Regions from separate parts of the Homo sapiens genome. Here region 2 is linked to region 1. Evidence: fine-mapped expression QTL. Tissue or cell type: thyroid. Region 1 holds a variant in brackets; the other region holds the start of a gene. All regions are shown on one strand. Distances are from middle to middle.

Evidence for each region. PIP is the estimated chance that this variant, and not a neighbour inherited with it, causes the effect.
Region 2: it holds the start of SH2D4A, and the variant in region 1 is fine-mapped to the expression of SH2D4A in thyroid (GTEx, PIP above 0.99).

Annotation. Positions count from the first base shown.
Region 1 is chr8:19,268,920-19,281,349 of GRCh38, reverse strand. LOC105379300 (a long non-coding RNA gene) reads right to left here. Exons shown (of 5, transcript XR_949537.2): 5 at 3,969-4,089. Among named protein-coding and RNA genes, the nearest start is that of SH2D4A, 39 kb to the left of the region's middle. The variant G/A (reference allele first, on the strand shown) is at 7,212.
Region 2 is chr8:19,307,227-19,319,656 of GRCh38, reverse strand. It overlaps SH2D4A (SH2 domain containing 4A), which reads right to left and starts at 5,964. Exons shown (of 10, transcript NM_022071.4): 1 at 5,834-5,964; 2 at 1-313. The coding sequence starts at 109. LOC105379306 (a long non-coding RNA gene) reads right to left here. Exons shown (of 4, transcript XR_949550.3): 3 at 11,215-11,401; 4 at 7,833-7,924.

The DNA.
Region 1 (12,430 bases):
GCAACAATAATCAAAATAAACAATTGGGGCTTAATTAAGCTAAAAACCTTCTGCACAGCAAAACAAATAGTCATCAGCGTAAATAGACAACCCACAACCTGGGAGAAAATATTTGCAAACTATGTATCTGACAAAGGACTAATATCCAGAATCTACAGTGAACTCAATCAAATCAGCAGGAAAAAAACAAATAATCCCATTAAAAGTGGGAAATGACATGAATAGACATTTCTAGAAGATATACAAATGGCTAACAAACATATAAAAAATGCTCAACGTCACTAATCTACAGAGAAATGCAAATTAAAACGACAATGGGATAGCACCTTACCCCAGCCAGAAAGGCCATTGCTAAAAAGTCAAAAATAATAGATGTTGGTGTGGATGTGGTGAAAATGAATACTTATACACTGCTGGTAGGAATGTAAATTAGTACAACCTCAGTGGAAAACAGCATGGAGATTTCCCAAAGAATTAAAAGTAGATCTACCATTCTATCCAGCTATCTCACTACTTGGATATCTACCCAAAGAAAAAGAAGTCAATCATTATATTAAAAAAGACACCCATACATGTATGTTTATCATAGCACAATTCACAATTGCAAAGGTATGGAACCAACCTAAGTGCACATTAACTGATGAGTGGATAAAGAAAATATATATATACACTATGGAATACTGTTCGGACATAAAAAAGAATGAAATAATGTCTTTTGCAGCAACTTGGATGGAGTTAATCATTACCTTAAGTAGAGTAACTCAGGAATGGAAAACCAAATACCATATGTTACCACATACAAGTGGGAGCTAAGCTATGGGTATGCAAAGCATACAGAATGGTATAATGGACTTTGGAGACTCAGAAGTGCAGAGGGTGGAGAGGTGAGGGATATAAAACTACATATTGGGTACAATGTACACTACTCTTGTGACACTAACACATCAGAATTCCCCATTATATAATTCATCCATGTAACCAAAAACTACTTGTACCCTTAAAGCTACTAAAGTAAAATTTTAAAAAATTAGACAAGAGGAAGGCAGATGGAACACCTAGATGACCCTTTTATTACTGATAAATGCTAGGGCAGTTTGTACCTGCTGACCAGAAGGAATTTGGGCACTGAGCCCCCGGATCAGACACACCTACACCTCAGGTCAATTCAGGCTCTCCACCTGGCAGCCTTCCCTATACTGTTTCCTGATGGAGAAGCAGAGCTGATTGCAGTTTTCCTTGGAGGAGCAGAGCTGATCGTAGGTTTCCTACAGACAGCTGGTTCCTAGGAGGAGGAGAAAGCCCGTCCTGTGCATGTCCAATTCCCCTTCCTAATTCACTATCAGCAAGTCACTATCCGCCAGGAACTTACATGCTACTGTGATATTGTTAGCTTGCTGCTGAATTCTTTGCTATCGGGATGAAGGGGGAAAGTTTTGTTCCACTTCTCCTACAGAAACAGGGAACCCATGAAATAGTTTCCTGTGTAACACTGTTCTCTTGTTTAACTAACGCTGTCATAAGTATTGTCATGCAGCCCATGCTGGCAAGTTGCTTAATCTCTCTAGATAATATTGTTGTAGTTCCTGGGGGCTATGGTGAGTTTTCCATCAATATCTTGGAAATTAGGAAGACTGCTCCCATAAATGATGAGACACAGATATGTCATTTGAAGGAAAAATAACTACCAGGTCAACAGTACTTGACTGATGACATGGCCAGACCTGCATCAGCTAGTATGGTGGCTCACGTGTAACTATTTAAACTAAAATTGAGTAAATTTAAACAAAGTTAAAAATTTAGTTCCCCAGTCTCACTGGTCACATTTTAAGTGCCCACCGATAATGTGGCTAGTGGGACAACATAGATCGAGGACATTTCCGTCAACACAGAAAGGTCTGTTGGACGGCACTGCTCAAGAAAAGCACTAGTTAATTCATAGACGAGTTGGTGAGTTGATTAATCTTTGAAGTACAGACAATGGAAAGCCTTCAAGTCAATCCCTGGCAGTGACATTGTATCAGTCTGGGTGCTGGTAGAAAACAGGTAGCACACTTAAAGATTAATTGAAGAGAGTTTCATAAGGAGGTTAACAAAGGTGTGGATAGACCTAAGAGAACCAACAAGAGATGGTGGAACCTCCAGGGCTTTTGCACAGTTGGGAGCTATCCCCTCCTCCGCCGCTGCCCCAGGCTTGGAAGGAGAAATGACATCACTGGACCTGGCTAGATAGAGCTCGGCTGTACATGAAAATAGCCACCGCCAAATTGATGAGCCTGCAGTGGGAAGTTTGGGGAAATATCCCGATTCCTTCTCTTCCTGTTCATCAACTGTCCTGCTGGTGACTCCCACTGGTGTCTGACCAGAAGTCAAAAGAAATAAACCCAGCAGGCAAGCTGTAAAGGCTGGGGTCTTGGGGCACAGAGCAGGAAAGAGAAGCATGGAGAATGAAAACAGGAGCAAAGGAGATGAATCAGCTCTCTCACCAAGCTCTGCCCAAAGCAGAGGGAGCTTTGACTTGGGCTGAGCTTTGTGGGGGAAAGTCCTAACGTAGAGATAAATGCTGGAGGCTTGCAGTGGTGCTGTTGTTCGGTTGGCTTCCCATGTGGGTCTGACTTCATAGAAAGGAATATACTCAGCACGTGGTGTTCACGCCTGTTCATTGGGCAGTTTTCTCTCTCACTGTTAATGAAAACGTTGGCAATTTGAAAAAGTGTTTCTGATCCAGCGAGGCCAAAGTCCATACACCTTGGTCCAGAGTAAATTTACCAAAGTGAGGAACACTGCCCTGTGAAACCTTATGGGAAACATCCAACAGACCTTGCCCTGATGAGGACTCTAAAACATTGCTGTGGGCCCGAGGGGACACATTGTAATTCCTCCAAATAACATCTGCCTCATGGAATTGCCAAGAGTGTTCAAATACACGTCTTACATAAAGCACTTCGCACAGTGCAAGAGAAGCAAGAGGCAATTAGTTCATTCATGTGAGAAATATTCAGGAATATCCACCACGTGTTGGTCACTGCTCCGGGCTGTGGAGATGTAGCAGTAACAAAGCAGACAAAATGGCTGGGCGCCGTGGCTCATGCCTCTAATACCAGCACTTTGGGAGGCCGAGGCGGGGAGATCACGAGGTCAGGAGATCGAGACCATCCTGGCTAACACGGTGAAACCCCGTCTCTACTAAAAGTACAAAAAATTAGCCGGGCATGGTGGTGGGTGCATGTAGTCCCAGCTACTCGGGATGCTGAGGCAGGAGAATGGTGTGAACCCGGGAGGCAGAGCTTGCAGTGAGCTGAGATCACGCCACTGCACTCCAGCCTGGGCGACAGAGCAAGAAAAAAAAAAAAGCAGACAAAATTTCCTGCCTTCTTGAAGCTTATAGCTTATATTTAAGAGAGGGACCAGGATAAAAAGCAATATGGCCAAGTAAATCATGCATTATGTTAGACAGTAGTAGGTGCTGACAAAAATAATGCAGAGAGTGGGTCTTGGAAGGGGAGTTGCAAGTGTAGATAGGGTGGTCAGGGAAGGCTTTTCTCAGTGTGAATTGTGCATAGAAGCCTACAGGAAGTGAGGGAGAAGACATGTAGACATCTGGGGAAGAGCTATCAGACAAAGGAGAGAGCCTGGACAGAGGCCCTTGGATGTGAGCCTGCCTGACATGCTCCAGGAAAAGGGAGGTGGCCAGAGTGCCTGGAGCATAGGGAGGAGAAGGCAGAACTGGAGGAGATTAAGGCAGAGCTGAGGGTGGGGGCTGGATGGCAGATCAGGTAGGGCTTGCAATCAATATATTTTAATGACTTTCCTACTCTCCAGCCTGAAATTATTCACATTGCCTCCTCATGCCATTATTGAACTCTTTTTCGTACGTAAATGTTCTGTTTGATCTCTGTGAGGTGCTCCTTCTCAGCAACCTGGAAGCAGGGCTCATGTCATCTGTATATATCTCTTTAACTTGCCTTATTTAGCATAACGCCTCACATCAAGTTGATTCCCAATGGATGCTGATTGAGGCAGAAATTCCCATTTGGTCTTCAATTTGCTGCAGAAAAATTCAGTGATGTCCCTGTCCCAGCATCGTGTGAGCTGTTCAAAAAGAAAGCACAGCTTTTTAATTTGACAGCAGAGTGAAATAACCTTAGCTCATCTGCATAGTAATAAAAACCCAGGCCATACCCTTCAGGAATAATAGCTCAGTTCATCATTCAAGCAAAGAAAAACAGAATAATTTCAGTGTCTGTTTAAACTTTCACATAATCTTTTGACCAGGACCTAAGCCATGTTCAGCAGCCTCTAACAATAGAGGCTGAATGTGCCAGCCAAGGGCCAAGATTGATAAGCTTAGTAGCTTCCAGGGCAGCCGCAAAGCCCAGCGTGCAGAAGACCCTGCGGTGGTTGCACCCATACATCACCTGTCTTTTTCAAAGGAATGACAGCCTGAGTACTGTGCTGTGCTAAGATACTTGATTGAAATTTCTCAGATAAATCAAAATGAACAAGATGTGTTTGCACTTGAATCCAAATGAGGTTCCCCAGTACCTCAACCAGAAAGCAGAAATATGAAGCCAAACCAAAACTCAATTTATTTCATAGTGGTGCTATTATGTTCTTACGTGTTCTGTGGTCCACAAGGCAGTCTGTCTTCCTTGGGATGTCTTTTTTATTTTGGTATCTCTCCCAGACCTACAGTTCCCTGATCCTTCTCTTTTCTTATAATTTTTTTCCCCTTCATCTCTTTTTTTTTTTTTTGAGATGGAGTTTCACTTTTGTCACCCAGGCTAGAGTGCAGTGATGTGATCTCTGCTCACTGCAACCTCCGCCTCCCGGGTTCAAGTGATTCTCCTGCCTCAGCCTCCCAAGTAGCTGGGATTACATGCACCCACCACCACGCTTTGATAATTTTTGTATTTTTAGTAGAGATAGGGTTTTGCCAGGTTGGCCAGGCTGATCTGGAACTCCTGACTTCAGGTGATCCACCTGCCTTGGCCTCCCAAAGTTCTGGGATTACAGGCATGAGCCACTGTGCCTGGACCCCTTCATCTCTTAATTTACCTTCATATCTCATGGCCCCATTTCCCCCCATATATCCCCGACTAGATGCTTGGCTCTTGTGCGGGAGGCACCATGTCTGAGAATTCTAACTGCTCGCCCCTCATCCCATATGCCTTCAATAGTGCTGCATGTAGAGTTGATTCTCATGTTGTTTTAATCTGACTGTTTTATTTATGTAGATAATCATCTTGTTCCAATATAAATTTGAGATGGCTTACAGAAATACACATAGTTCAGCAGGAGATTAAACCAGTGTCTGAATGGAGAAATTGTAGTGAAAGGGTGATATGATTTGGCTGTTTCCCCCCAAATCTCATCTTGAATTGTAGCTCTTATAATTTCCACCTGTCGTGGCAGTGTCCCAGTGGGAGGTAACTGAATCATGGGGGAGGGTTTTTCCTGTGCTGTTCTGGTGATAGTGAGTAAGTCTCATGAGCACTGATGGTTTTATAAAGGAGAGCTCCCCTGCACATGCCCTCGCTTGCCTGCCGCCATGTAAGATGTGACTTTGCTCCTCCTTTGCCTTCAGCCTCAATTGTGAGACCTCTCCAGCCATGTGGAGCTGTGAGTCCAGTAAACCTCTTTCCTTTTTAAATTACCCAGTCTTGAGTGAGTATATTTTTATTAGCAGCATGAGAACAGGTTAAAACAGGGGGATTAAAAACAATGGCCTTCATCTCATTTACGGTTCTTTCTTGGGTTCTTCCTATAACTTGTCCTCTTGAGATATAACAAACACATTACATGGGCCAGATCTCTTTATAGACACTGCCCTCCCCTGAGCCTGCTCCAGAGCCAGTGCAGCCCTGCAGGTTGACTCACTGCGGTAAACTGTGTACCCAGGCCTGCTCTATGCAGGGGCTGCTTTGAGATAAAATACTTCTTGTGTAATTGTTTTAGTTTATAAGATTAATATTTTTCTTCTCAGGGACTGTGTCCACAATTAAGGAAAAAGGCTACCAGGTGAGTAGTGATATTTGGCAGGCCAAATATGGGATGTGGTTAGTTGCGTCATAAAAAATAAAGTACACTTTACTAACTCAATTTTGGTCTACATTTTACTTTTCTCTTATTATAACAGGAAAATTACAGAATATTTAGAAAGGAAAGAAGTTACCTACCATCCAAATCAAAAAGGCAACTTTTAAAAACATTTGCTTCTAAGCTTTTTGCCAGTTATAACAATAGAGACTTATGTTGTACTTTTTTCCTTAACATTATTTGCTGTGCAATAATTTTAATATCTGCATAATATCCCTTTTATGTTTTTCCATAACCATTCTCCATTAGTAAGCATTTAAATTCCTTCCAGTTTTTCATTATTATAAATACTGTACTGAGCATCTATGAACACATAGGTTTTTTTTTATTTTGGATTATTTCTTTAGGGCAGATTCCCAGAGGTAAATTATGGCCAATGGGCTTTGATATTTTTTAATTCTTTACACATATTTCCAACTTGCTTTCGAAGTGTTGTGCTGATTTATGAAGTCACCCCTGACGTAGCAGATAGTCTGCTTCATAGAGCCTTTTCCAGCTCTGGGATTGTGTTAAATCCGTAAATTAACTTGGAAGGAAAAAAGTATGTTACTCTATTCGGTCTTGCAATTAAATATATCTATTGTTCTATTTGTTACTGCTGCAGTTATTATTTTGATATATATGTATATGAATTATAGGTATTATACATACATACATATATATGTTAGATGCAGGCAATAAGAGGATTCCTCAGGCCTTTCTCTTCTCTTTGCTTTTAATGTTCTTCCTTACCTGCTTTTCTGTCTTCTCCCAGCCCAGCACACTCTCCAGGCCTCATCTGCCTGCACACCCACATAATATCTTAAAAATTCACAAAGGTAATAATAAAACACAAAAACTGAGTGGCAGAGATAGCAAGTGCACTGAGGCTTGAATAAAACTCTGTGCTAGAGACCAAGTCACTGGATTCACATGGGTGTCAATGAGATCAGACCCACCCTGGAAGTAGATTAATGGGGCTGCTGACCCCCTGTCCACTGGCTGATGGTGAGAATTTTGAAGCGTCCTTAATAAGGCTCTCATATAGAACCTGAAGAGTCTCGGTCCTTTGACTTTGTGTGTACGGTGTGCGTACATGCTCTTGGCGTGTGTGAGTGTGAGCTGATGAGAAGGGC[G/A]TTCCCAGCAAGATTCCTTGGCACCATTCTCTAGTTTTAGGGGCGAGTGCAGTGCAGTGTGTATTGTTTGCTGTTTGCACAGCGGCACTTCACTGCTCCAGGGCCAAATGATGACAGAGGTAAAGTCTGGGATGCTTCGACACCACTCCCACATCCCTGTGCTGTGTCCCGGCTCTCCTCTCTTGCTCCCAGCCAACGGTAAGAGGCTAAATGCCTGGGTCTGAACTGGTCCCAAGATCTGAACTGTAGAATCTCAGAGCTAGAAGACATCTCAAAAGTCACCTGGCTCAACTCTGTCTTTTTCTATACATGAGGAAAGTGAGGCCAAGATAAATAAAGTGGCTCAAGTCAGTTTAGTTTGTGGTAAAACTAGCATTAGAACCAAGGTGTCCCGGGCAAAAGGTTAACAGACAGGGCCACTGGCCCTTGATCTACCTTGCGGGAAGTGCATGGCTGTGGGTAAGTCAGTCACACAAGCTTTCTCATTTACATACTTTTTAAACCACATCGGCCTATCCAAAGGGCCACTACAAGGATTAAATTGAATAATGGATGTGAAAGAGGGCTTTTGAGACTGTGTTCCGCTCATGTTATATGTTTAATATTCACAGTCAGTAATGGACTAACGGTGGGACAGTGGATACCACCAGCTTCCCATGCAAACAATAAGAGGCCGCATTATCTGTTGAAAACGTAAAAACAATTATAAAACTGACTAAAAATTAGGTTGCTTTTGTTATTGTTGTGTTTGGCAGTTTTAAATCATGTCAGTGATAAAATAGTCTTTCCTGAAAAATTATTTTGTAGGTCGCCATTGCAAATAATTGTCATGGTTACTATTGAATTTTAATGATATGTGTGAAAGCTTCAACTTAGCACATTTTTGTTTCTTAACCTCTAATAAGCCTTGTATTCCACATGAAAGTTAATTCCAAGGTCTCTCAGCTAGAGATGCTAGATTTAACAATAAAGATAAGAGATGCCCAGTTAAATTCGAATTCCAGGTAAACTGCAAATGATTTTTAGTATAAATATGCCTCATGTTTATTTCAGACATACTTATACCAAAATAAACATTGTTGTTTGCTTGAAATTTAAATTTAACAGATGTCTTGTATTTCATCTGGCAAGTCTACTAATTATACATGGGAACACAAATACATGCTTTCATTCAGAGAACAAGTTTATCACAGCTGTGAGTGATTTGAACTCACCTGAGGCACAGTTTTTGTCTACAACCCTGGTAGTAATACACTTATTTGAATTTAAACAGTAGATTTAAAATAAAGCTAACACAGGAATTATAAGGACAAAGAAACTGAAAGTGTCCTTCAATTTTGTCCTTCTTCAAGTGGCCACCTGGAGCTTTTATATGGTTTTTTAAAAATTTAAGAGTGAAATAGAATATGAACTTCAAGGTATCATATTTTTGCTTGGTAAGAGCATGTTTTAGTTCACATGACACGTGACATATTTTACTGAATGTTATGGGTTGAATTGTGGTTCCGCAAAAAGATATATTGAAGTCCTAATCCCCAGTACCGCACAATGGGACTTCATTTGGAAAGAGGATAATTGCAAATGTAATTACCTACATTAAGATGAGCTGACACTGGAGGAGAGTGACTCCTTAATCCAATATGGCTCGTGTCCTTAAAGGAGGAGGAGAGAGACCCACAGGTAGATGAATGCCAGGTGAAGACACAGGCACACAGAGGCAAGGCCATGTGACAGCAGAGACAGAGATTGGAGCGAGGCAGCTGCAAGCCAAGGAGCACCAAGGATTACTGACCCCTACGGGAAGCTAGGGAGAGGCAAGGAAAGAGTCTCTCCTCCAGGTTTCAGAAGGTTTCTCCCAGGTAGGTTTCCCCCGCTGACACTTTGATTTGGGACGTCTAATCTCCAGAACTGTCAGAAAAACAATTGCTATTGTTTTCACCCACCCAGTTTTTGGCACTGTGCCCAGGTCCACCACCTACTAATTGCATGACTTAGCTCATGTTTCCTAATCTCCCTGAAGCACAGTTTCCTTATGTATAAAAATGGGGCTGGCCATGCCCACCTCAAACTGTTGGAATATAGTGAGATCATGCACATAAAGGGCTCAGCGCTGTGCCTGGCATAAGATAATGATATTAATGTGCAAATGATATTCACTTCTCTTCTTATGCTGCTGCTATTGTAATGGCACCTTCAGGAGTGATTTCTCTAGGAGTAGTGCCATGTAATAATGCTCCCTGGAAGACCATGTTCTCCAGATGCAGAAGGAATGACTCTCTGGGGGTTGAATTTTAGGCATGACAGAAAATTTCTACACGTGGAAGCCCCTTTGCAGAAGATGTATTTAAATCCCGGCCCCTGCAATCCCAGCACTTTGGGAGGCCGAGGCAGGTGGATCACGAGGTCAGGAGATCGACACCATCCTGGCTAACATGGTGAAACCCCGTCTGTACTAAAAATACAAAAATTAGCCAGGCGTGGTGGCGGGCGACTGTAGTCCCAGCTACTCGGGAGGCTGAGGCAGGAGAATGGCATGAACCCGGGAGGCGGAGCTTGCAGTGAGCCGAGATTGTGTCACTGCACTCCAGCCTGGGCGACAGAGGGAGACTGTCTCAAAAAAAATAAAATAAAATAAAATCCCAGGCTCTTATCAGCCACCCATGACTGGACACATAGTAGCTTCACTTCAATTTCAGCCCTCAAACTCCCAGGCTGTCCAAGAGACATTCCACACATGGATGAACAGGAATGAGCAACCTTGAATAAACATGATGTTGCAAGAGAAGGGTCACTACCTGAAGAGGGCGTCCTCTAACCACAGGATTCTCTTTTTATGATTGATTGATTGATTTTGAGATGGAGTTTCGCTCTTGTTCCCCAGGCTGGAGTGCAATGGCCTGACCTCAGCTCACTGGAACCTCCACATCCTGGGTTCAAGCGATTCTGCTGCCTCAGCCTCCCAAGTAGCTGGGATTACAGGCACCTGCCAACACGCCAAGCTAATTTTTGTATTTTTTGTAGAGATGGGGTTTTACCATGTTGGCCAGGCTGGTTATGAACTCCTGACCTCAGGTGATCTGCCCGCCTTGGCCTCCCCAAGTGCTGGGATTACAGGCATGAGCCACCCCACTCGGCCATATGCTTCGTACTGGGAATCCCACAAAACCACTCATTGGCAATGGAGGAAGCTCAGAACAGTGACAGATGCCACTGCCCTTAACAAGATTGATTACTATGCTTGAGAGTGGCCTGAAATTGGTGACCCGGGGGCCAGAAGCCAGGTTCTAGAATAACATAACAATCAGCATGTAGCCAGAATAATAATTCTAGTAATAACACTATGATAGTGAAGATGGCAATTTAAACAGCTGGCATTAAGTTTTTACTGTGTGCTAGGTACTGTAAGATGTGCCTTTTATATCTTACATTTTAATCCTATAAACAGCTATGTGAAATTGTTATCCCCATTTTGCAGATTAGCAAACTGAGCCTCAGGGGGGTCATTAATCTGCCTGGGATCCCAGGGCTAGTAAGTGGTTGGGCCAGGGCACAGACAGGGCACAGAAGCTACTGCCACCATGAGTGGCCAGGCACAAAGGAAGCAACAGAGTTGCCCAGGGCCTGGCTCTCTCTGCTCATCCACATGCCTGGGGCCAGAGGATCCACTCAGTAAATATTCATGCAATGCCTACCATGTCCCACGCATCGTGCGAGGTGCCAGAAATGACATTGAGGAAGCAGGTGGTACAGTGCAGGCTACGAGGTCCCATCCTTCATCATCATGCTGAGCCTTTCAAACATTTTCCTTTTGGAGCCTCGGTCTTTCCCTCCACCTTCTAGTGGCTGGGCGGGTTAATCCATGCAGGGCAGAGGCCAGGTTTTAGGACATTTAGGTCATTTCCACCCTAGAAGGTGGGAGAAGAGCACTGCCAAGTTCTTCCCTCTTCCCACATGAACATCTCATCTTCAGCACCATGATCATGCTCATTCTCTGGGTTCCTCCGAGGAGGCTGGCACCAGGCTAAGGGGATCACACACTTTCTCCTTTCCTTTCTACAACCTGTTAGGAAGAGCTTATGAGATAGGCCCATTGTATTCCCATTTTATACATGAAGCAACCAATGTTCAGAAAGGTTAAGTAAGGGCCAGGTGCGGTGGCTCATGCCTGTAATCCCAGCACTTTGGGAGGCCAAAGTGGCTGGATCGTGAGGTCAGGAGATCGAGACCATCCTGGCTAACACGGTGAAACCCCATCTGTACTAAAAATACAAAAATTAGCCAGGCATGGTGGTACCTGCTTGCAGTTCTAGCTACTCAGGAGGCTGAGGCCCGAGAATCCCTTGAACCTGGGAGGCAGAGGTTGCCGAGCTGAGATTGTGCCACTGCACTCCAGCCTGAGAGACAGACTGAGACCCAGTCTCAAAAAAAAAAAAAAAAAAAAGAAAGGTTAAGTTAAGTCTGCCTGTGCTGCTCAACTGACACACGGAAGAGCTGGGATTGGAACTCAGGTCTCCCTGACTTCAAAGCTCATGTTCTGTATATTACCTCATACCGACTTTTAGAACCAATTAGGCTGAGAGTGGCAGAGGAAGGAAATAAATACCATTAAACACGCAGTCAACCTTTAAAGTTGTTTTCAGCCATCTGCCCTGGCCTTTTCTTTCAAGGCTGGAATTGCTCTCGCAACACGACTAAATGTCCTAAGTTGTTGCATGATGCTGAAAAACCCAAGAGAGATTCCAGATCCTTCTAAACAAATCAGATGGTTTAGTCTGTGAGGCAGGGGACATTACAGAGACAACAGGAACTTAGTGAAATCTCAGTCTCTGACCCTTTTTCTAAATAACAATTCATCTGAGGAGACTTTATTTTATTTGTTTATTTATTTATTTATTTATTTATTTATTTATTTATTTATTTCGAGACTGAGTCTTGCTCTGTCACCCAGGCTGGAGTGTAGTGGCACAATTTTGGCTCACTGCAATCTCTGCCTCCCGGGTTCAAGTGATTCTTGTGCCTCAGCCTCCCAAGTAACTCAGATTACAGGCATGTGCCACCATGGCTGGCTAATTTTTGTATTTTTAGTAGAGAAGAGGTTTCGCCATGTTGGCCAGGCTGGTCTTGAACTCCTGGCCTCATGTGATCTGCCCACCTCGGCTTCCCAAAGTGCTGGGATTACAGGTGTGAGCCACTGTGTCCAGCCCCCACCTGAGGAAACT
Region 2 (12,430 bases), 38 kb before region 1:
GGATCTGTTCCTCTCTCATCTTGAAGAACAGGATCTGTTTCTGTTCTTCGCTGAGCTCTGCCAGTAGATCAGGATCTATGTACATCTCCGACAGTATCTGTTTCAGCATCTTTGCACTTCTGAAGTCTTTTATACTTGTGGCAAAAGTTCCTGAAACTGGCCTCCAGGTGTCCCTCCACCTGTGCTGGCACTTGGGCGTTTCCACGAAACTTCCCAAACAGCTCACAATCCTGGCTGACTGGGACAATAATTCAGCAAACTGGCTACTCAGACCTGGCACCAAATGTCCTGTCCAAAATGCTGTTCACTGAACCTGCAGAGAGAAAGAGCCCACATTCAGGCAGCGTGTTAAAATGTGTGGACACTGGCTAGGACGGGTTTAAAAAAAAAAGCTAGGAGGAAACACAGTATCACTTTTCAGTTCAGAGAGAAAAGAGAAGAAGAAAATCTGAGGCACACTTTGTTAAGAGTTTGTATAACCTCTATCCTGTAATTTCTAAAGATACTCTGTCAAAAAAAAAAAGAAAACAAACCCTAACTTTATACAGGTCAATCTCAGGCAAACAAAAAAAGTTCACAGAGGTTTGTCCAGCTCCCAACTAAGCAAACACATTATTACCCCAGAGCCTAACAAACCACCAACTGTGTGGCTGAAAAAAGAAAGAAAAAAAAAAGTCACAGGAAGAAATTAAAAGGCTCTCTGCAAAGTACCTATTTCAAAAGAAAATACCACTTTTGATATGTCACAGAGTAACTCATCCCAAACCAAACCAAAATAGAGCCATGCTCAAGGAAGAAAAAGGAAGAAATAAAAACTAGACCACCATGCATTTTCTGCAATTTCCCTAAAAAGTAGCATTAAATAAACAAAATTATGTACTTTCCTCTTCACAAAAGGATAATGTAATTTCCAGATAACCTACTAGAGCCATGAAAATCAGGGCAGGTGCAAGAGAGAACATCCATCTACATTCTGGAAGGTCACCGAGTTTTAGGTGTGCTTTTTCCAGATAACCTAGTTTAATAAAATCTAAATGGACAGACCAGATAAACTAGGGGGATGAAGAGGTCATTAGGTTCATAACAAAGGATCCTTCATTTATATGACTTTACCGCATGGCTCCTTGAAAGAGAAACCATAAAGCGAGAGTGCACAGTGGCCTCCTAGAAGTTCTCCTGTGGTTGGAAATCCTACTGAGGTTTCATTCTACTTTCCACATTTCTATTTTAAAATATTGGCTTAAAAATATTACCACACTGTCATACTTTCTCTCTCTATTTTTAAACAATTTCTAAGTCCCATAAACCATCATACTTTTGTAATCAGCAGGAAACTATGTAAATATATCTATTCTGGAAAACAAAAGACTTTGGATTCGATGTAATAAGATATAAGAAAAAAAACTTACTACAACTTTTCAGAATCACATGTGTCCTAAGAAATTGACCAATAGGCCAGGCGGGGTGGCTCACGCCTGTAATCCCAGCACTTTGGGAGGCCAAAGAGGGGGGATCACGAGGTCAGGAGTTCGAGACCAGTCTGACCAGTATGACCAACATCTCTACTAAAAAAACAAAAAATACAGAAATTAGCTGGGCATGGTGGTGGGTGCCTGTAATCCCAGCTACTCAAGAGGCTGAGACAGGAGATCGCTTGAACCTAGGACGCAGAGGTTGCAGTGAGCCGAGATCGCGCCACTACACTCCAGCCTGGGCAACAGAGGGAGACTCTGTCTCAAAAATAAAAAAAGAAAAAAAAAAGAAATTGACCAATAATTTGTTATTTATAATAACACCTCAATAATCTTACCACCTTGCCATGTGCTCTCAAATACGTTGTTTCTCCATACTATGTTCAAACAGTCTTAAACTTCAGACAAGTCACTTAGCTATATTATGACCATCGTAGTGTTGTTGGTTTCTCTTCGTTCACCTTGTCATTGATACAGTTAGATTTGTAATGCCCCTCTCACCATCTGGGGGCCTCCTTCAGCTTCCCGTCTTCCTCCTCTTCCGTGCAAAGTAGTTCCTTGATTTACACCTGTCTTTTGAGACAAGCACGCTCAACAGCTAGGCTACCACAGAGTGGTGTGCATACTCAGCTCTTAGATTCGCTGACTGTTCATTGTGAAGCCAGGCCCTTGATGAAACTACACCTATCCCTACTGACTGCAACCTATCATCTCGGCAGCATTCAACTACCAGAATCCAAATGGAACCAAACATTAAGAGAAAAATTTTAAAGGACTAAAAGTAATATCACGCCCTTCCCAGATCCACTTGCCAACTTTGTATTTTGCATTGAGATACCCTTAAAGGCTTGAACAGCCAAAAAAAAAAAAAAAAAAAAAAATGGATGTCTTGTCAAGATTTCTTGACTTTTGACTTTTTGTTTCTAGCAGCTTCTCAAAGGGTGGAGCCAATGAAATCCACAAGCTCCAAGATAAAGTGGTAAGAAAGGAGACAGAATGACTCCTTGACATTCCAGTAAATGTCCTTAAGTTCAATGGTTGGTTTTCGCAGAAATCACACACGGCAGAAGATGAACAGTTCAGCTGGGGTTGAGACTTCTGCTGTGTTCCCCATTTTGAATGCAGCGAATCCTATTCAAGGCATGGGTAGATCCTAGAATCTAAAACCCTTAAAGTGTCAAAGTCATATTCCTCCAGTCTCCCCCGCCCTGCATATTCCTGATAACACAGCTAACACTTCTTGTACCAGGCACCATCTTAATTAAGCACTCTACATGTGTTAACTCACTTAATCTTCACAATAACCCTTGGAGTCCAGCCCATCACTATGCCCATCTCACAGATTAGGAAGATAGAGCACAGGTCAGCAGCTGGTAAGCGGCAGAGCCGGGCAGTCCAGCTCTAACTCAGCTTCACTGTAATACACAACACAGAGGCCTTTTTGTGAGTTTATTTGTGTGCCCAGAATCAGAACAGCAGGATGTGGTGCCATGTATGAAATTTCAGAATGGAAGCCAGCAAATTCCTGCAGCAACAGAAACGCTGAACTGATGGTGCTTGACACAGGGCAGAAGCCTCCTCCTGGTCAACTGTAGCTAAGCTTAGGGGAGGCCAGGTGCACACACCCCAGCCAGGAAGGACAGCAAGGAACCGACTGTCACACTGACCCAGGTGTGGACATTGCTTACCCACGTATTCACCAGACACTTAGTCCCATTTCCCCTTGCACTTAGTCATCCACTTCGTCTCTACAATTTCCCCTTCCAAACAAACACTAAGAACAGCACAAAAAGCACAGCCTCTCACATGTGCAAGGAGGTTCATGGCACCTCTGTGATGAAATTCTCACATTATTTCCATTTTTATGTTGTTTTGTTTTACTTTTTATAGCAAACGTGGATTTCTAACATTAAAATTAACTAGTTCATCTTGAAGGAAAGACACTGGCTTCCTTGTGCCTCCAAGAATACTTGGGGGACCCAGCCGACAACTATCTGTGGTCAGGCCGTTGACGATGTGGCCATTCTGCCACTGCTGAATGGTACTGGTGTAAATCACCTGTCCCCCTCACCCTCTAATTCCCAACCCCTAACCCCCGCTCCAAGGCTTTCTCAGACCCCAACTCAAGCTCAGCACAGTACACCCAAGACACCCAGAGGCACTCCAGCCTCAACTCCCAGCTCCGCCTCTAGTGAGCGGTGTGACTCTGTGCTGTCACCTCACCTCCTTGGGACTCAGTTTCCTCATCTGTGAAACGAGGACTGGTTCAGTCTGTGACTTCTAATGTGTGGGTATCTGACATAATCTACTGTGAAGCGAAGGAGCCTGGTGGAGCCAGGGTAGAAGAAATAGAAATCAGGAAATTAACTAACTAGGGCTTTCCTACTTTCACTCCCTGACAAGGAAGTAATCATTGCTGATACTGATTCAAACTCAGAGGACTTTCCCATACTATATCAAGGGCAGCAAATCTCCGGTTATTCAAGATCCAACAAAGGAATAGCTCAGCTAACACAGCCCCTTTCTTAAAAGAGAGAAATGATAAGCAACAAGCCCACACCTGCTATTTATTCTGAACACCAATTGCTAAAAGGTCAGAGAATCCGTTGTTTTCCATGATACCATAGATTTGGCCTGATTCTCACACCTTCACACTGTTCTACAATACAACTGTCTTTTGAATAACTCTGAGACCTAAACAAAATACAATTTTAAAAGGCCTTAGATACAGGCTAAATCATAAAAATAGTAGGCGGGCACAGTGGTTCTACATGTAATCCCAACACTTTGGGAGGTGGACATGGGTGGATTGCTGGAGCTCAGGAGTTCAAGACCTGCTTGGGCAACATGGCAAAACTCCGTCTCTACATAAAGTATAAAAATTAGCCAGGCGTGGTGGCCCGCACCTATAGTCCCACCTACTTGGGAGGTTGAGGTGGGGGGATCTCTTGAGTTGGAGAGTTTGAGGCTACAGTGAGCCGAGATCGCACCACTGCACCACAGCCTGGGTGACAGAAGGAGACCCTGTCTCAAAAATTAAAAACATTAGGTCGGTGCAAAAGTTATTGTGTTTTACATGGCCAAAAAAAAAGTAACTGCGGTTTTTTTTACGTAAAAACCGCAATTACTTTTGCACCGACCTAATAAAATAAAAAATAAATAAAAGTATTGTGGTATGGACAGTGTAACTATAACATTAACAATACAGTTTGAATTCTAATTCTTTTAAAACAGCCAGCTCTGTGGTCCAACTTTGTTTTCTTATTGAAACTTTATCTTATTCATCTACCAGCAAAAGGGCTGTTTTTGAGGATGAAACAAATTACCAGAGATGACAGCAGTTTGTAAATATATACTATTCTTCAGAAATTTGAGATTACTGTACACACAGATTTAGTATACATAGAGAATTCCACTCATATGCCAAATCTATGCCCCTGTATGCTTTCCACTTATTTATTCACTATTTTAAAATAATCGTACCCAAGTCGTTGTTTCTATTAAACCAGCAATCAAACGAAAGCCTTTGGAGCGATGAGGAGCATCTGTTTGAAAGGGGGAGGTGCCACGCTTGCTGCTTCTCTAAGCTCCCTGGGAAGGGAGAGACAACTCAGAAAACCTACAAACTGTAGCTCCTTCCGGTGCCCGCGTGACCCCCGAGTCCAGGAGCGGGCAGGGGCGCCGCTTGGCTGAGCGCACTGGGCACCCGGTCTGGGTCTGGGCCAGCCCCGCCGCTGCAGCCCGAGGGAGGCGGCGCTGCACTGGCCTCCGCGCGCTCCCAGACCCCACGTGGGGGCGCCCCTGGGTGCCGGTGCGCGGGGAACGTGCTGCGGGGGTGCTGCGCCAGCTGCCACCGTTTCCCGGGACTTCCCTCCTGGAAGATTTCCATGCGCAAGTCGAGGACGTGCTCCTGCTAGGAGTCTAGAAACTCTAGGCCAGCCCGGACCCTCCCGGGGCCTGCACTCCCCGCGGGTGGAAGCACGCGCCGCGTGTCCCTGCCGGATTCCAGAACTTCCCCGAAGGTCCTCAGCCCCGGCAGACCCTCTCCCTCGAAGTTCCCCCGCCACCCCCTGCAAGCCCCCAGGCCCCGGGGACCGCCGCTCACCTAGCCAGCGGCTCCAGACACCGGACACCGGACACCGGACACCGGACACCCGCCGCGGCCGCTCTCGCCGCCCAACCCCGCACCTGAGCCCGCCCCGGGCGCCGCGAAGGGGTGGAGGCGGGGGTGAGGCTTCCGCCCGCCCGCTCTGGCCCCTGCGCCTCCCATGCACCCATGCAACCTCCGAGGAAATTCCCTTCCCCCTACTCCCACCCCACGCACACTCTCCCCAAAGCCTCGCCCCACCCCCAGCACCTACCAGTGCTGGGCGCCCCTGGGCAGGGTGGCTCGATCACCCGCCACATCCACTTGGCCGCCAGAAGCCGTCGGGGAAGGGAGGGAGGGAAAGGCAGAGGCGTCCCAAGCGGCGCAGGCGGGCTGAGCAAATACTCCGGCCCGGACGCAAAACAGCTCTTGTAGCCGTCCCGCCCGCGCCGCCCCGCCGCGCCCACATGCCGGGGTGACTGGCGGGGCGCAATCGCGGCCCCACCCGGGCGCCTGGAGGCTCTCCAGGGCCACTCGTCGGCGAGGCTGCGTGGCCTGCGCATCTCGGGCCGCCTGGCCCGCGCGCTGTCCCCGAGCTGCGGTAGTCCGGGGTAGGCTTGTCCTCTCCTCTCTTAGTTCATGAGACAGGGATCTGCAGTCTGTGATCTCTTGGGGACTGCAGGACTTAGATTAAATCTGCAGATCTGGGCCTTTCCACGTTTCAGAGCTCGGGGTTCCTTGCTAGGTGTAGGGTAGGAGGGTGCGCAGGCCCCACTTGTTCACTCTGCTTGGGTGCTGCAGGCCAAGGCGACTCTGGAGCTTTTTTTTTTTTTCTTTTGTTGACATTAAGTAAATGATCAAACTCTTTGGCACTTGTCGGTACACGTGTGGCTTTGTAGGACAAGATGAAGGAAGGAAAAGGCTGGAAGGAAGGAGACCGCAGTCAACACAGACAGGTGGAGAAAATGAAAGAAAACTGGGGGAAAAGTTAAGATGCTGAAAGGAGTCTTGAGGATTGCAACAAGAACAGGTTGGCTTGGTGCCTGAAGACGTCAGGGAGGAGCTGGCAGTCCACAGTTAGAGGAAATCTTGGAGGAAAATTGAGCAGAAGCACAGTGGAAAGGCATTTCCACTGGAGGGCATTTTCCATCCTAGAGGAGCATGTGGAAGAAAACCGCCTGCTTTGGTGAACCCCAGATTTTGTGTATTGGGAGAGATGTAATAAACAGTAAACACCAGTAGTCCTCTCCACGGACTACCTGACCTCTTTAGGAGCCTGACCTGCTGGATTCAAACACAAAATGGCATTTCCCTGCCTCTCCAAACTGCAGAAGCTGTGCAGAGTTACATCAAGCCTCGGGGCAGGCGGCATTGTCAGGAAATAAGACCCAGCTATTTAGGAACAATTCCAGGAATCCCATCAGGGAGGAATTTCTGGTGTAAGGCTTAGTTCCTACTGCAGTTTAAATGATAGCATATGGGGTGCTTTAGGCTGGAGTGGGATTGGCCCCTGGAAAGCTGCTATGACGAGGTCAGAATGAATCCTAGCCCTGCATGGATGCATCAGTTGAACCATACAGGGTGGTTTATCAGTTAGGAAAAATCCCACAGGACACTGTGACAGCCTACCTTCCTCACACCCAGTCTCTCTCCAGGTCCTGGCAAGTCCTTCCTTATAACAGCTTTATCACTGTGCTACTAACCTCTGTACCTCACTTTCCTCCTCTAGATAAAGAGTGTCTGCCTCGGTAAGTTGTCAAGAGGGTTAAATGAGATGCTACATGCAAAGAGATTAGAAGAGCTCTTGGCATGTGGTGAGTGTTCAAACACATTCACTCAGATCAGTTCATATCACATTAAGGTACTGGAATTCCACATTCCTGCCATCTCACCCTAGGCTGTGGGTTCTGCCCACCATGCCACCTACCTTCCAAGTCATTCCCAGGGATCCTATCCTCCTGGTATTCACATCCTTGCATAGCTCCCTGCCACTTTGTAAAGGTTGGTATGCTTGACCAATAGAACCCGGCAGAAGTGATGATGGTCTGCCACTTCAGAGATTAGGTAAGGAAACACCTTGGTGCTTCTATCTTGAAATAATATTGACAGCCCAAAGGAACGCACGCTGTACACAAATAATGCAAACAACTCAGAACCCAGACTCTCTTCCCTTTTCTCTCATCTGCCCATTTCCATCCTTCTTGTCTCGTGGCTCTTTCCTATATTTGCCATGAACTCTTCTTCTTCTCTTATTTTTATAGTTTCTTCTCCATCCTCTTCACTTGGTCTCCCCTCTCCTCTATCACCTTCTCTTTTTGTTTCCTTTCTGCTGACTCCTGGAATTTCCTCTTTTAATTGGCATGGTCTGGAAGAGAAAAGGTAGATGTTTTTCCCTTAATTTCAAAAGTAGACAATTCGAATTTTTTTTTTTTTTTTTTTTTTTGAGATGGAGTTTCACTCTTTTTGCCCAGGCTTGGAGTGCAGTGATGCAATCTTGGTTCACTGCAACCTCGGCCTCCTGAGTTCAAGTGATTCTCCTGCCTCAGCCTCCCAAGTAGCTAGGATTATAGGCACCTGTCACCACAACTGGCTAACTTTGTATTTTGTTTTTGTTTTTTTTTTTTGTTTGTTTGTTTTTTAGTAGAGACTAAGTTTGACCATGTTGGCCAGGCTGGTCTCAAACTCCTTACCTCAGGTGATCTGCCTACCTTGGCCCCCCAAAGTGCTGGGTTACATGCGTGAGCCACTGCGCCTGGCCAAGAATGTTTTATAATGCTCTAAAAAAAAATCAGGTGGCCTATTACTTGTGGGGCCTTCAGTTACTTTTTCCCTCCCTTTGGGCCAGTACTCTCAGAGGAAAACATTTCCCCCCTCCATGATCTAGGATGTGTTATAGGGACGAATGTGGGGAAGACTGCTGACAGGGGCTGGCCACTGACGAGTCACAGACATGGAACATGGTAGCACCAACATGTGTTCAGGAATGCTCTGCTGCAGCGTTCACTGCCAGAACTTAAAGAGAAAGCTAAACATCTATTTATTGGTTACTAATATTTTTAATTTGTCATTTATTCGTGGTAATGAATACCATGAAACAAATAGCCTACATTTTAATGGATGTGTTCCTTGGCCTTCCTTTTGGACTGTTGCTTAGGAGCCCTGCTGCCCAGGGCTGTCAAGTAAAATGGCATAGCATGGCCCTTGTACAACTGTGGGTGGGCAGGGGACAAGCACAGAGATCACTATGTGTAAGGCGCCCCCTGGAGTTGTGCAACACTGCCAGCCCTATTGTTGCCAGAAAGACAGGATAAGCCACTTTGCACTTTTTCTGAGATAAAGATTAATCCTTATTTCAGTTCTACAGACAATGAAAATTGCCTTCATATGTTTTCTTTATAAAATAGAGTATTTTTCCTGTCATATTTTATGATCAGCATCAGAAACCTCAACCACTTTTTAACTGTTAGAGCAGGTATACACTTGTACCACAGTGAATGTAACGTACAAATGAAAGAAAAATACAAAAACATTTAAACTTTACTAAAAACTGATCAAATCTCAAAATAAATCTTAATCAGTTCATCAATCATTAAAAATATATTTAGGGTCTGCTGTGTTTTCAGCTCTCTGTGAGCAGTTAGATTTGATTTTGAACTATTTTCATTTGTGTATGGTTCTGTATGGGCCTTTATTTCTTCATCTTCATAAACACCAAGATAAATTATTGGTCTTTACATTCATCTTTGAATCAATTACATTACTGTAATATTTAATGTTTTTCCAAGAGTTACCTTTATGGAGTTCTTTCTCTAAAATCCACACTCTGAGTTGCTAATTAGACATTTCTGGTCTCTCATATGTGTGTGTGTATATATATATATACATATATATATGTGTGTGTGTGTGTGTGTATGTGTATGTGTATATATGTATGTGTGTGTATGTATGTATGTGTGTATATATATGTTTTAGATGGAGTCTCGCTCTGTCTCCAGGCTGGAGTGTGGTGGCACGATCTTGGCTCACTGCAACCTCCACCTACCGGGTTCAAGTGATTCTCCTGCCTTAGCCTCCAGAGTAGCTGAGACTACAGGTGTGTGCCACCACGCCTGGCTAATTTTTTGTATTTTTAGCAGAGGCAGGATTTCTCCATGTTGGTCAGGCTGGTCTCAATCTCCTGACCTCGTGATCTGCATGCCTCAGCCTCCCAAAGTGCTGGGATTACAGGTGTAAGCCACCATGCCCGGTGGTTTCTTATATTTCTGTAATACAGTGACAAGCAGCCCGTGTCTCAGAGAACTGCTCACCTCAAACTTATGGGTGGAATTGGACAGTCGCTATCCCAACGATATGGGACATCTGCAGTGGCCTATGGTAACCAGTGCTTTTTTATGGGTCAAAGCTCTGAGAAAGGAGCAGAAGCAAACTTTTTCTAATATTCTGGTGTTCCTTGGATCTTCCCAGGCAGTTTTGATAAGGTCTACTAGACTCATAAAATCAAATCTCATCTCTTTTTTGGACCAGATTCAGAAATGCGTTTCCATTTCCTAGCTTCTCTCTTACAGGCAATCTTTGCAAAAAGTGCACAAATCCCTTTTAGTTTTATAAGGAATTTTCTGCAAATGAGTACAGCAGTTCTCAAGTACATATTAAAATAACCCAGGGAGATTTTCTTTGTAACATTTGCCTCTTTGTCTACTCCTCCAAGGAGTTATTTGATTGGGATGAGATGGAGCGCAGATATCAGCATTTTTTCAAAGCATCCAAGGGGATACTAATGTGTGGCCAAGGTTGAGAGCCACTAAAATATATGGAAATAAAGTTAATTGGCTATGAGAAATGTTGAAAAAGCAGTAATGGCACTTCCTGGACTTTACTGAAACATATATAAGGCTAGATAATCATCTTCTTCATTCTGGTTTTTGAGTGAGTTCCTAAACTCAGTCTGAGATAGACTTTCCACCAAACCCAGACTGTCATTTAATAGGATGGGAATGAAATGAGATGCATAAGATGACAGTGTCTGGCTTATTATGGGATGCGCAACATACACAAGTTTTACTTCTTTCCTTCCTTCCACTTCTTCCTGGTTTTGAAACCCCCGACATTCCCTCTGGCCCTTTAGCTGAGGAAGGCATTTCCCTCTTTGGCACCAAAGGCTCGCCCACTCCCACACACACCCCATGCATGGCTCCAAGTGTCCTCCAGATTTCTCTAACTGGAAGTTGAAGTGCATTCTGCCCTTTGGTAAAGTAAGACACTTTGCCTCTTCCTCTAAGTGTATGTTTGAATCAGAGCCAGCTTATGGCCTCTTCGATAAGTGCCATTGTTTAAGTTTGAAACAGAGTTGGTTTTGACTGGTGTGTTGGTATTTTAAGGACAATTAAATGTATACAACACCTGGCATAGCTTCTAGTGAAAGGGCATGGCCCATAGATGACAGATCATTCTACACAAATAGAGAAATATGAAAGAGGGTAGCTCCCTGAACCCTTCACAGAGAGGGTTCTAGATTCATAGAAATTATATTGCCACATTCACCAATTTAAATATCACAGAACTAGTCAGTGGCATACAGAATTAAAACAAAGACTTTCTGATGCCTAATCTCTTTACATAGTTATTACACTACGTTAACTTAACTAGCTCATTTACCTTACTGAATTTGAGAGTGAAAGTGAAGCAAGTCACCATCGGGTCTCTCTTCTAACAGACAGCACCTATGTCTCTTGATGGAGAGCAGATGGGAGCTACCTCCAAAGCTGCACTGGTTCATGGCCGGCTGGATGTGTAGATGACTCGGCTCCAGTTTCTACTCAGTCCTGGGTTCAGAGTTGAAGACCTGCAAGTCACACACAAGCTTTTGAGCCTGAACAAAGCAACAACTCTTTTTTTTTTTTTTTTTTTTGACTGGGTTTTACTCTATCACCCAGGCTGGAGTGCAGTGGCTTGATAACTGCTCACTGCAGCCTCAACCTCCCAAGCTCAAACGCTCCTCCCAAGTAGCTAAGACCACAGGCATGTGCCACCAGGCCTGGCTAATTTTTTTTTTTTTTTTTTTTTGAGACGGAGTCTCGCTCTGTCGCCCAGGCCGGACTGCGGACTGCAGTGGCGCAATCTCGGCTCACTGCAAGCTCTGCCTCCCGGGTTCACGCCATTCTCCTGCCTCAGCCTCCCGAGTAGCTGGGACTACAGGCGCCCGCCACCGCGCCCGGCTAATTTTTTGTATTTTTAGTAGAGACGGGGTTTCACCTTGTTAGCCAGGATGGTCTCGATCTCCTGACCTCATGATCCACCCGCCTCGGCCTCCTAAAGTGCTGGGATTACAGGCGTGAACCACCGCGCCCGGCCTAATTTTTTATTTTTTGTAGAGATGGGGTTTTGCCATGTTGGCCAGCCTGGTCTTGAACTCCTGGCCTTAAGCCATCCTCCTACCTCAGCCTCCCAGAGCACTGGATTACAGGTGTGAGCCACCGCACCCAGTGTGTGACTCATCTTAAGTACAATAAGAAGGTATTGATGGAAAACCAAACAATTCCAAGTGATTCTTTTAGATCAAATTCTGACCCAGAGAGGAAATATAAAGAAAAAACAAGGAAGAAGAAAATGAGAAGAGACAGAGGAATCAATACCAGAAGGATAAAAAGAATGGAGGAGATTTTTTAAAAGAAATCTGTAATATAGTTGATTTTATAAGTGAGCTTCACTTTAGTACGTTCCTGTAGAGTCTCAAATCCACACTTCTTTTTAATAGAGAAATGGTTCACACAAGAGAGAAAGGAAGAATGCCTCTGGGCTTCAGAAATTATCTTGAGAGTCTTTAATGAAAGAAGAATTCCTGCCCAATACTGAACTTAAAAGTATGAATTTC